2 separate regions of the Homo sapiens genome follow, and region 1 is linked to region 2. The links come from fine-mapping of genetic effects on gene expression. A gene starts in region 2. The other region holds a variant in brackets. All regions are shown on one strand. Distances are between the middles of the regions.

The links. PIP is the estimated chance that this variant, and not a neighbour inherited with it, causes the effect.
Region 1: its variant is the best candidate, but not a certain one, in a credible set for the expression of UBXN8 in cerebellum (GTEx, PIP 0.87).

Annotation. Positions count from the first base shown.
Region 1 is chr8:30,717,104-30,720,013 of GRCh38, reverse strand. The region is part of intron 1 of GSR (glutathione-disulfide reductase); the gene reads left to right. Among named protein-coding and RNA genes, the nearest start is that of GSR, 9.3 kb to the left of the region's middle. The variant C/G (reference allele first, on the strand shown) is at 1,657.
Region 2 is chr8:30,742,713-30,745,622 of GRCh38, reverse strand. UBXN8 (UBX domain protein 8) reads right to left here and starts at 1,459. Exons shown (of 8, transcript NM_005671.4): 1 at 1,346-1,459. The coding sequence starts at 1,433. It overlaps LOC105379356 (a long non-coding RNA gene), which reads right to left. Exons shown (of 2, transcript XR_005646967.2): 2 at 1,551-1,912. It overlaps LOC105379355 (a long non-coding RNA gene), which reads left to right and starts at 1,946. Exons shown (of 2, transcript XR_949634.2): 1 at 1,946-2,878. RefSeq lists enhancers at 1,491-1,570, 808-1,776, 1,811-1,950.

The DNA of each region.
Region 1 (2,910 bases), 26 kb after region 2:
GGTCTCTAACTCGTGGGCTCAAGCAGTCCTCCCACCTCACCTCCCAAAGTTTTGGGATTACAGCGTGAGCCACCACACCCAGCCGCAAGTTCACTATTGAACACAGTTGATGTTCTTGGCAGGCGCAATTGCAGATTAACCAAGTTCTTGTTTTACTGCCAACATGGGCAATGTGAAGTTTCTACCTGGCTAGGCAGGATTGAAGGTAACGAGGCAGGCCCTAGGAAAAATGGTGAAGCTTCTGAATTTTGCCACCTGTTATCACCAGATAACAGGCGGCCCACTGATCGGGATTCTGAACACTAGATTGATGCCAGCAGGCCCACTGATCGGGGTTCTGAACACTAGATTGGTTGGAAAAGGAAGCTCTCAGGAATGGATCATCGGTTTGGAAAGGGAGGCTGAGTTACAGGAGTCTCCTTGATGATGTATTTACTGAACAGCCTGTGAAATTTTGTTTCTTAGCTGGGTGTGGTGGCTCACGCCTGTTATCCCAGCACTTTGGGAGGCTGAAGTGGGTGGATCACTTGAGGCCAGGAGTTTGAGACCAGCCTGGTCAACATGGTGAAACCCCATCTCTCCTAAAAATTCAAAAATTGGCCAGGCGCGGTGGCTCAGGCCAGTAATCCCAGCACTTTGGGAGGCCGAGGTGGGCGGATCATGAGGTCAGTAGATCGACACCATCCTGGCTAACACGGTGAAACTCCGTCTCTACTAAAAATACATAAAAAAAAAAAAATTTATCCAGGTGTGGTAGTACACACCTGTTGTCCCAGCTACTCGGGAGGCTGAGGCAGGAGAATTGCTTGAACCCAGGAGGCAGAGGTTGCAGTGAGCCGAGATCGCACCACTGCACTTCAGCCTGATGACAGAGTGAGACCTCGTCTCAAAAAAAAAAAAAAAAAAAAATTTAAAAATTAGCTGGGCGTGGTGGCGGGCACCTGTAATCCCAGGTACTCGGGAGGCTGAAGCTGGAGAATTGCTTGAACTCAGGAGGCAGAGGTTGTGATGAACCGAGATGGCACCACTGGACTCCAGCTGGGCAACAAGAGTGAGACTCCATCTCAAAACAAAACAAAGCAAAAAAAAAAAACAAAACACCTTAGCAGGGCATAGTGGTGCGTGCCTATAATCTCAGCTACTCGGGAAGCTAAGAATCACTGGAACCTGGGAGGCAGAAGTTGCAGTGAGCTGAGATTGTGTCACTGCACACTCCAGTCTGGGCGACAGAGTGAGACTCTGTCTCAAAAAGAAAAAAAGAAACTTGTTTCTTATCCCTCATTAATGCCCACCTGGAGAACCGGGGAATCTGCCAGTGTTGTATGCTGAGGGTCTTAGCAATGTGCAACTCTGGGCAACCAGAGCCCTGAGAACTCATCTGATAATGCTCCAGTCTGGGAGGCAAACTTCCTTTGTGATCAGCTGATGTGTTTTAGGTAGGAAGGCCCCTGGGGAATTTATCTCCGCCTTTCCGTATGCCTTGTGTGCGTGTGGGGAGCCAGCAGACGCAGAAATAATTCAGAGGTATCAGAGTCACCATCACATCTATCATAGATTAGAAATAGATGCTTTATATACCTTATCTCTGACCTGCTCAAAATCTCCATAATGGAAGCATTCTTCCCTTAACTGAGCTAGGAGAAATTTGGAAACTCA[C/G]CCACCTCTAGCCACTAAATGGGAGAGCTGAGAGTCAAACTCCTATCTGTCTGACTTGAGGCCTGTGCTCCCTCTAACAACCTGATGCACAGGTCAGCTAGAGCAGCAGTCCCCAGCCTTTTTGGCACCAGGAACCAGTTTTGTGGAAGACAATTTTTCCACGGACCAGCAGTGGGGTATGGTTTCAGGATGATTCAGGATTCAAGTGAATCACATTTATTTATTTATTTATTTATTTATTTATTTTTATTTTTTTGAGACAGAATTTCACTCTTGTTGCCCAGGCTGGAGTGCAATGGCATGATCTCGGCTCACTGCAGCCTCTGCCTCCTGGGTTCAAGCGATTCTCCTGCCTCAGCCTTCCAAGTAGCTGGGATTACAGGCACCCACCACCACACCTGGCTAATTTTTGTATTTTTATTAGAGACGGAGGTTTCACCATGTTGGCCAGGCTGGTCTTGAACTCCTGACCTCAGGTAATTGCCCGCCTCGGCCTCCCAAAGTGCTGCAATTACAGGCTTGCGGCACCACGCCCAGCCTGCATCACATTTATTGTGCACTTTATTTCTATTATTATTATGTTGTAATATATAATGAAATAATTATGCAACTCACCATAAACTAGACTCCGACGGAGCCCTGAGCTTGTTTTCCTGCAACTAGTTGGTCCCATCTGGGGCTGATGGGAGACAGTGACAGATCATCAGCAATTAGATTCTCATAAGGAGTGTGCAACCTACATCCCTTGCATGCACAGTTCACAATAGGGTTCACGCTCCTATGAGAATCTAATGCCGCCACTGATCTGAAAGGAAGTGGGTGGAGCTCAGGCAGTAATGCTAGCGACGGGGAGCAGCTATAAATACATATGAAGCTTCGCTCACTTGCCCGCCACTCACCTCCTGCTGCAGCCTGGTTCCTAATAGGCACCTGGCGGTCAGGGAGCCCTGAGCTAGAGAAAGGGGAAAGAAGGCTGAGTGCGGTGGCTCATGCTTGTAATTCCAACTTTTGGGAGGCTAACGTGAGAGGACTGCTTCAGCCCAGCATTTTGAGACCAGCCTGCGCAACATAGTAAGACCCTGTCTCTAATGTGTTTGTTTGTTTGTTTCCTTTTTCTTTTGAGATAGAGTTTCGCTCTTGTTGCCCAGGCTGGAGTGCAATGGCACGATCTCCGCTCACGGCAACCTCCACCTCCTGGGTTCAAGCGATTCTCCTGCCTCAGCCTCCCAAGTAGCTGGGATTACAGGCATGTGC
Region 2 (2,910 bases):
GAAGCTTCAGGACAGTCTTTGTACATTTTTTTAAAGCATTTTATTTTCATTTCTTATTGCACGCAACATTTCTAGGCATCTGACTCCTTGTGAGCAGGGAGAAAATGTGGAGAAAGAGAGGGAGTACACAAAGCCAAGTTTCATTATGGTCTCTAACTTTAGAATTGACCTTAAAAAGGGAGACAGACATGTAAACTGATCACTGAAATGTCCAAAAATCAACTCATGATTCTCAGCATCTCCACAGTTTTTCTTTCCATTTCCCCTTTACCAGTAGCACTACCAAATACCTAGGTTTGCTCAGTCCCCCATGAGGCAGTCGTCCTTGAATCCTTCCTTTCCCTTGCCCCAAACATCAACCCATAAACAAAGCCTGTTGGTTGATCCTACTCCGTCAATATCCCAATTCTGTCTACATTTCATCTCCTGTTATTGTTCTAGTCCAGGCCATCATCACCACTTGTCAACTTCCAAAGCCTGATGTGCCTCACTGCTTCCACCATAGCTTCTGTCCAAAGCATTCTCCATACAGAATCGAGTGACCTTTTTAAAACTTAGGGAAGTCACTTAACCTCCCTAAATTTTAGTTCCCTCAACTGTAAAATGGGGATTATAATAGTGCCTACCCTCCTCTGATTGCAGTGCAGATTAAATGAGATAATAACCAGCACCTGGTGTTTGGCTTATAATAGGTGTTCAATAAACGTCATTATCCTGAGCCAATTCCTCCTCCTCCTCCTCCCAACTCTCCTTGATTCAGCCACAATGGCCTTCACCTTTTCCTCCAACGTGTCACAATCTTTTTGCCTAAAATATTCCTCCCCTCCCCCATCCCTTCCCTGCCCCCACTGGCTTTTCACGGGCGTGGCCCCTTATTTAAACCTAGGGCCGGGCGCAGTGGCGTAGGCCTGTAATCCCAGCACTTTGAGAGGCCGAGGCAGGAGGATCTCTTGAACCCAGGAGTTCGAGACCAGCCTGGGCAACATAGTGAGACCCTGTCTCTAAAAACAAAACAAAAAACTTCTCAGCCTAAATTCTCACAAGACCTTCATCTTATCAACCTGTTTATTTCCTTTTCAGTGTTCGCCAGGATGCGAAAGCACTGTCTATGATTGCCCCTGTGCTCTTTGCCTCTACCCTCTTACACGTAAAACCATCACACCTGGAGGGAAAAGGTTCCTCGAAGTGAAGTCAGCTCCGGAAGTGGGGGGGCAGGGGCGATGCAGTCTGGGAGTTGTAGTCAAAGCTGCTCCGAAGCCACGCAGCCGAAGAGGCGGTCGTTCTATGCAACATTCCTGTGAAAATTACCCAGCTGTGACTGTCGAAGGGAAAAAGTCACACTTACCTATATCCGGGATCCCACGCCGGAGCTCCAGACACACAAGGGGGACAGCAGAGAGGAAGAAAATGCCAACAACCCCACGTGAAGCCATGGTGGCGGAAGCGCCTGGTGCAGGCGGAAAGCCCGCCCCTTCCGGCCGCGTTTTCCGGGAAGGAAGTGGAACTCTTCTTGCCGCGGGCCGGCTGGGAGAGGGTCAATAACGTGGTAAATACTGACGGCCGTGTCGTTATTGAGGGGGAGCTAAGCCCCGTGTTTTAAAGTTATAGTCTGTAGCCGTGTTTCAGAAGAAAGGCAAGTCGTCCCCCAAGTCACATGATGTCCAGAGGAGCCTGGGCTCTAGAGCGGTGGCTCCCTGGAGGGTAGCAGGGCAGGGGCTGCCCCTTCGGTCTTTGCAGCGTCTGTGAGAAAGCGCTTTCCAGAGGGAAATGAAGCCGAAGAAAAAGCTGATGCTGTGAGGAGGCAGCCTGGGCCCCCCGGCCTTGTGGCCGTATAGGATGAATGTGGGCTATAACACCTTCCTTATCTCCCTAACGGTTCCTGGTTCCTGGCCCCGTCCGCAGTCTCTGGTTCCTGCGGAAAGACAACTCGAAAGTGGGGCCTGGCTCCAAATACCTGCCCCCTAACACGCACGTCCTAATGCCAGGTCCTGGAGACCCGCTACCCCTTGTTCCGCCCCTTTTCAGTTTTGCCTGCACGCGTTATTGTTAACCTTGACTTCATAGTTCCATGACCTCATTGCCGTCCTATAACTCACCACTGTGCACTTCTCCCAAGCTACTGAGGTCCTCCCAATCTACAACATTTCGTACTTGGAAATTATCTTTCCTGGCCAGGCGCGGTGGCTCACGCCTGTAATCTCAGCACTTTGGGAGGCCGAGGCGGGCGGATCACAAGGTCAGGAGTTCCAGACCAGCCTGGCAAATATGGTGAAACCCCGTCTCTACTAAAAATACAAAAATTAGCCGGGTGTGGTGGCGGTCGCCTGTAATTCCAGCTATTCGGGAGGCTGAGGCAGGAGAATTGCTTGAACCCGCATGCGGAGGTTGCTTTGAGCCGAGTTTGCACCACTGCACTCCAGCCTGGGCGACAGAATGAGACCCCGTCTCAAAAAAAAAAAAAAAAGAAAGAAAGAAATTATATTTCCTGGCTAAGCGCGGTGGCTCACGCCTGTAATCCCAACACTTTGCAAGAAAAAAGAAAATTCTTTTTCCTGACCCATCCATCTAGCATCCCACCTGACTATTCAGTTTAGTTCATCTGAAATTTATTGAGCTCCACAGTTTGGTACTCTACAACTCTTGGATATTCAAATATTTACAAGTTACTGAATTTGTCCTCAAGAAACTCAGCTTATCCGACTTTGTGGTTCTATGGAGAAGAAAAAAAAAAACTGGGAAAGATAGCCCTGTAAGCAAATAAACATAATGCAGTTCCTGAGTGCTATGATAGAGATATACACAGGGTGTTGCAGAACCATACCCAGAAGGCTTGCAAAAGGCTTTCCAAAAGGAAGTCACGCCTACGTTGTGTTCAAAGGTTAGGAATCTGGGCAAGGATGTCCGGGAAGG